Linked DNA regions of Homo sapiens. The protein of the gene in region 1 interacts with the protein of each later gene in a pairwise test. Each region holds a gene or a part of one and is shown in the gene's direction. Other genes may lie near its edges.

Evidence for each region. The genes of interacting proteins can lie anywhere in the genome.
Region 2: the proteins of C1orf94 (region 1) and CRYBA4 interact in binary tests that used the Homo sapiens proteins (3 or more experiments, as listed by UniProt).

The regions. Positions count from the first base shown.
Region 1 is NC_000001.11:34,204,365-34,208,018, forward strand, and holds part of C1orf94 (uncharacterized protein C1orf94), read left to right. Parts: intron 1-3,654.
Region 2 is NC_000022.11:26,628,063-26,631,320, forward strand, and holds the end of CRYBA4 (beta-crystallin A4), read left to right. Parts: intron 1-225; coding exon 226-368; intron 369-2,277; coding exon 2,278-2,425; 3' UTR 2,426-2,607; downstream 2,608-3,258. UniProt on the Homo sapiens protein: Crystallins are the dominant structural components of the vertebrate eye lens.

The DNA.
Region 1 (3,654 bases):
GTCCCCTCCCGAGGGAGGGAAAGCTCACACCCCATTGTGGAGGTGAGAGGTTGTGATGAAAGGTGACCTAAGAAGGAAGCTGAAGTGGACCAGTTTCATATTAGTAGTCTATTGTCATGGACCTGTTCATATCAGTAGTCTATTGTCCTTACACAGGTCTTGAAATGTCCTGTTCATTGATTCGCTGACTCCTTTACCAATATGATTCTACCCTTTCATTTTTGTGTGCCTATTCACTATTCATTTACTCACCTACTCACGATTTACTCATTTCTATGTATTTATTTACTCATTAATTTAAGTAATTTTGAAAACCATTTCTCCCTACAAGCCTACTAGAGGCTGAGCATTGTTCTAGGTGGAGGGATTCAAAGATGACTAAAGTCAGGTGTGGTGGCATGTGCCTGGAGTCCCAGCCTACACCAGAGGCTGAGATAGGAGAATTGCTTGAGCTCAGGTGTTCAAGACTAGCCTGAACAATATAGTGAAACCCTGTCTCTAAAAAAAAAAAATGATGACTAAGAAAAGCTTGGAGTCTAATGCAAGTTCAGGAATAAACCAGAGATCAGCTCTATGCATCTCCACCTCTAAAGGGGAAACAACTGCATAATTCATTTAGTACAAGTCGATTCACTCTAAAATGCCCTCACAGAGCTCACCGTGTAAAACTAATTTGCAATGGTTTGCTTTATTAAGTGGGGATAGCATCTCTTTGCTATGTTAATTTCTTCTGACTTTTTGGAGTGGGTGAGATTTGGACATATCATTTTCTGAGCATGACGGTCCTCTGTCTTTAGCATCATAGGGCTGACTATGAGGTTCCTGGGCTTCTGAGCAGAAGCAGCAGAAGGACCCTGGCTGGTAAGGCCTGCTGGGTTCTTTGAGACAGTTTAAGCACTGAATGGGCCCAGCTGAAGTTGGCTGTGGAAGGCATTGGTCCTCCCAGGTAATAAGGAAGGACAGCATAATTTACCTTCTCCCAGCTTCTGTGATCTCACAATGCTGTCCAGCTTCAACATAGCTGATCAAGGGGCCTGAGATAATAGCAGGCAGGTTTTGAAACCAGTAGACTTGACTTTAAAGGTTCTGCTGCTTCCAAGTTAGGCCTTAGGCTGGTTAGCTGCTCAGAGCCATGGTTCCTCATTTGTGAAATGGGTTCATAATAATTGCAGCAGCAGCAGCAGTAGCTACTGATATGGTTGTAAGGATTAATTGAGTCCATGGAAGGGTAAAGACTCTGTAAAATTTAAGCTGTGACACAGATGTTGGTTTTTATTATTATTCAGCCTCAATCTTCCAAGGAAATGGGGTCAGAGAGCTCCACAGACCTTGAGGGGACAGAGAGGAGAAATGGGGAACAGTCTAGCCTGGTCTTTTCCCTGTTTAGCACTGGGAATAAAGATAAGGTCCCAAATCCAATTTACTCAGAGCTCTGTGGTAGGAGGACTCAGAGATGTGAAAGACAAAGTCCCCAACACCGAGGAGCTTCAGAGGCTCCTGGGCTACTTGGCATAAAGGAACTCTGCTCCCAATGAAGGAGGGAGGGTGCGTGGGAAGGGACCATGGCTTAAGCAAAGAACAGTGAATGTTTATTTACCCTTGCCTGTGATGTTACAAACTTGCAATTCTAACAACTAGAAATGTTGTTGAAGTCATGCAGTGTTTTCTAACTCATGAGTGTGGCACCATCTCCTGAGAATCCGCCCTGGGACTGAGCAGCGGTGGGCAGCTGTTTGCCATCCACAGAGCCTAGGGCAGCCTGGCACAAGCAGGTGTGGGATGGTGGAGGCTGGGGAAGTTGGCTGTAGAAAGCAAGGGGCACCTTCCTCCCTGGTGCTCCCAGGAGGACCAGGGCCACCAGCTTAAGCCCTCTGCTGTCCCTACTGTATGGGCTCCTGTGAGGGGTGGATGGCATGGCCCATGCTGGGCATTCTGGAGACTGCTCAGTGCTGTACCTGAGGGAGAAGATGATGAAAAAGAGGCAGAGGGAAGATGAAAGATTCCCATAGGGAAGCTCAGCTGCTGCAACTTAGGCTCTGCGGTCTGGAGGCATAGCTCTGGTCACCCTCTAAGAGGGTACGATGAGTCTCAAAAATGGTGACATGGAATGCTCCCAGCAGAGATCTTTGTGTATGATGCCGTGCACACACACAATTGCACACAAACGATATCCATGCATGTTTGATGCACACACATAGAAACAGAAACAGGCAGGCGCACGACTGCCTGTAGAAAGCAGAGATGAGTGCTAACAGGGATCAGAGGAGGCGGCGAAACAGAGGAGGGACACTTAGCAACATGCCTAGTGGCCTTGGAGCTCATGGAGGGCTGAGAACAGGTAAGGCAACACCATCAGTCTCACTGCTCTGTCCAGGTTCAGGCAGAGGCTGGGGTTGCAGGGACCGGGCAGTGGTCATAACAGGAGAGAGAGGCTGCCCTGGGCTGTAGAGCTTGGAGTAAAGGGGAGCAGGTGAGTGGTTTCAGGTGAAGGAGTGGACAAAAGTGGGAGGGGCCTGAGCATGGGAATGTCAGGAGTGTCCCCTGCATGGGAGCAGAGAGCAAGGAGGGGCTCTGAGAAGAGGTACACTCTTGGGGACCTGGAAGATGGAGCAGGAGGAGAGCAGGGAGACCTACTTGCAGACTCCATATCAGAAAGTCCACAGGCCATGAGGGAACCCTCAAGGGTGTAGGGTCAGCCATCATCAACACTTTGGTCATTGGCACAAGCTGAGCTGAGAATGGAGGCAGCCTCTCGGGCAGCAGATCTTCTGAGAAGATGTCCTGGGCTGAGGGGTACTTTGGGTTTTGAGCCTCATCTTAAGGGAAAACTCGGGATTGACAGGTGGAGGCAGAGTCTGAGACTAGAACTGACCACTGCCACAGCAGCAGTTCTGCGGGGTGTGTGTGTGTGTGTGTGTGTGTGTGTGTGTGTGTGTGTGTCTTACGTCTGTGTGTGGACACATGAGCACCTCAAGACAGAATTGTGAGTAAAATGTCAATTTCCCATCTGGCTGAACTGCCAGAAAGCTGTTTAAGGGAGGAGGCAGTGATGGATGACAAACACACTGAACATTGAGTCCTTACTATGTGCAGGGCACTGTTCTAAGCTCTTTAGATGTATTAACACTTTCACCCTCACAGTGCCCCTCTCCGTAAGCTACAGACACAGGTATATGGATGGGCACATAGATACACAGCAACACTAACACACCTGGGTTCACAGTTGTATATTTGTACACAGAAATACACAGCTGCATAGACACAAATGTAAACACACATGCAGGTGTATTTAACATGGATGCAAACCAACACACACACGTAGAGACGTGCATAGACACCTTGTGTCTTCAGGGGGCAGGTATGGGATTAGGGGAAGGCATTTAGAAAAGTTGTGTGGACAGCAACAAAGATAATGTGGCTACCTTCATAGGCTTTGCAGGCCTGAGCACATGCAATTTTTTAGAGAAGGAAAAAGAGGCTCAGAGATGTGATTTGCCCAAGGTCACACAGCCACTAAAACACAGATCTGGGACTCGGGAGGCAGTCAGGCTCCTGAAGCTCCTGTCTCCCACACTCATCAGAAAGGCTGTGAAGGCTGCCTAAGAGGGGCTTCCTGTGTGATGTGAGTCCTGCTTCTCCTGGCCTGGTTCCAGC
Region 2 (3,258 bases), on another chromosome or scaffold:
GATGAACATTCTTGCAGCCTATTTATTCCATGATTATTTTCTTTGTGGAAATTTCTGGAAGGGCAAATGGCAAGGTTTCTGGTACCTGTTGCCTTATTGCCCTTCCAAAAGGTTTGCAAGGAAGGCTGATTTGGGAGACAAGGGCAGGGAGTGTGGAGGCCAGGAGAGGCTCCTGGGTTTCCAACTGGGAGCCTGCTGGTCTGACTGTGTTCCCTGTTCCTGTAGAACCACCGTGACTCGAGGCTGACAATCTTCGAGCAAGAGAACTTCCTGGGCAAGAAAGGAGAGCTGAGCGATGACTATCCTTCCCTCCAGGCCATGGGATGGGAAGGCAATGAAGTAGGGTCCTTCCACGTCCACTCTGGGGCGTAAGTGTATTCAAGGCTCTACCTGGCAGGGGAGGGGCTACTGGGAGGGGTAGGTGTACCTCCTGTGAAAACTGTGTGCTGGGGACTTTTGTGCTCTGATGCCCACATTCCAGAGGAGAACACTGAGGCACAGGGAGGTATCAGGCAGAATTTGAGGGACTGAAACCCAGATCAAACTGGTTTGAGCCCAGAAGATATTTATCAGCCCCTGTAATTAGCTTCAAGCATAGCTGGATCCAGGTACTACAGCAGGTATCTCTCTCCCCCCACAACCCCCAACCTGTTGCCCTGCCTGCCTCTGTGTGACTATATTCTTAGACAAGCTCTTCCTGTGTGAAGGCAAAGGTGGCGGCTTCATCGTTACATCCAGCCCTAGGGAAAGACAGTGTCCAGGCTCAGTGATTCTATTAAAGGTTCCAAGAAAGGTGCTCATTGGTCCAGCTGGGTCCTGTGCTCAACTCTGAACCAATCATCATGCCCATAGGAATGGGGTGTTCTGATTGGCTAGGTTTGGTCATGTGGTCCATTGCTAGATTCAGCCTCATTTTCTCACCTTGGCTGAGAGTGAGAGGCCACAGGCTCTTTGGCTAGAAGAGGGGAGAATGAATGCCCCTAGCCATAAAACACAGGTGTGGCTCCAGCAACCTGCTCAAAGTCCATCAGCAGGTAGGTAACAATCCAGCTTCAAACTCAGCACTGACTGGCCCTTTCCTTTCCACCCAGGAGGTGGCAGGTGAAGGCTAAGGTGTGAGATTCTTATTTAGGGAGGACATCAGAACCACTTTCTGAGGTGCCCCTTGGCTCCTGGTAGGCAGGGGGCAAAGATGGGAGGTAGGGTTTTTCATCTTTTTTTTTTTTCTTTTTTTGGCTTTAGTTTTCTCAGGAACCACCAAAGAATCATGTTGTTTTAGAGTAAGAGGGACCCCTTGTGATTCTTGAGTTCACTTCCTCTTTTACAGAAAGGGAAATGGAGGCTTGGAAAACCAGACACCAATCCTTGTCCTGAACAGAGTAGAAATCAATGAGTTGGGCCAGACACGGTGGCTCACGCCTGTAATCCCAGCCCTTTGGGAGGCTGAGGTGGGCGGATCACCTGAGGTCAGGAGTTCGAGACCAGCCTGGCCAACATGGTGAAAGCCCGTCTCTACTAAAAATACAAAAAATTAGCTGGGTGTCGTGGCTATGCCTCTAGTCCCAGCCACTCGGATGAGGCAGAATTACTTGAACCCAGGAGGCAGAGGTTGCAGTGAGCCGAGGTCATGCCACGGCACTCCAGTCTGGGCAACAGAGTGAGACTCTGTCTCAAAAAAAAAAAAAAAAAAAAAATCAATGAATTGAAATGATAGCTTTTTTTCTTGGAAGTGCCTCTGGATAAGGAAGGAGGGAGAAAGGGGAAAGAACAAGACTTCCCATTCCTTCACTTGTTCACTTATTCAGCAAATATTTAGGAACCCCTTCTTCCTTGCTAGACTTTTATATATTTATGCAGGTGGTGATAACGATGAACAAAACATACACGTTCCTACACTCAGGAGCTTGCCTGCTGGCAGGGGAGGCTGATATTTTACAAATAATTTGAAAACTATCGAATTACATGAGTGCTACAAAGGTATAATAAGGGACTGTGGCCTGATTTGGGGAACGAGTCAGATTGCCCTCATAATTAAGATGAGCCATGAAGGACAAATACAACTTGTCTAGGAAAAGAAAGGCTGGGATGGTGCTTCTGGCAAAGGGAATGGCATGATCAAAGGCCCTGTGGTAGGGGAGAGAGCATGGCACATTGTGAGCACTGAAGAAAGGCCAGGATGGCTGGAATTGTGTGCGTGTGCATAGATCCCTTTGCCCCTGTGTTGATCACCATGCTGGTGTCTCTGTAGAGTAACTGTCTGCCTTTTCTCTTTTCCAGCTGGGTTTGCTCCCAGTTTCCGGGCTACCGAGGATTTCAGTATGTGCTGGAATGCGATCACCATTCCGGTGACTACAAACATTTCCGGGAGTGGGGCTCTCATGCCCCGACCTTCCAGGTGCAGAGCATCCGCAGGATCCAGCAGTGAACAGGGGTGCGGCACGGAGGAGCGCATGCGTGCTTATCTGCAATGGAGGCGCTCTGGAGGCTGTGGTGTGTTCTCTCCTTCTGCCTCCCCCTGTAACCTGTGTGAACCCAGCACCCATGTGAACTGGTCCGTGCACAGTCAGCACAAAAAACTCAAACGAATAAAAAAGAGAAAGTCTGGTATTAGTTGTGCTTTTCAATTTTATTAATCTTTTCAAAGAACCGGTTTTTAGCCTTGTTTTCTCTATCATTATTCCACTGATTTTTACTCTTAACTTCAGTATTTCCTTTCTTCTATTTACTTCAGGCCTACTTTGTTCTTAGTTTTTCTAGCTTTTTTTTAAGGCAGACTTCTGGGTCATTAATTTTAGGCCTCTCTTTCCCCCACCCAGTACGGTCATTTAGCTATAAATTTCCCTCCAAGTATGGCTTTAGCTGCTTCCCACAAATATTAATTTGATGTGTTTTCATTGTCATTCAGTTTGATATTTTCTAGTTTCACTTGTGGTTTTTTTTTTTTCTTTTGACCTATGGGCTATTTAAAGGGATGTTATTTAAATTCCAAATACTTTAGGATTTTCTAGGTGTTTATTGTTATTGGTGTGTTTTTAAAGACCAATGTGGTCGGAGAACATATTCCTTAAGATTTAAGTCTTCTGCAATGAATTAAGACTTATTTTATGGCCCAGCACATGGTTTTTGTATTTTAATTTTATTTTTTGTTTGTTTGTTTGTTTTGTTTTTAATGAGTCAAGGTTTCACTCGTCACCCAGGCTGGAGTGCAGTGGTGCAATCTTGTCTCACTGCAGCCTCGACCTCCCAGGTTCAAGCAAT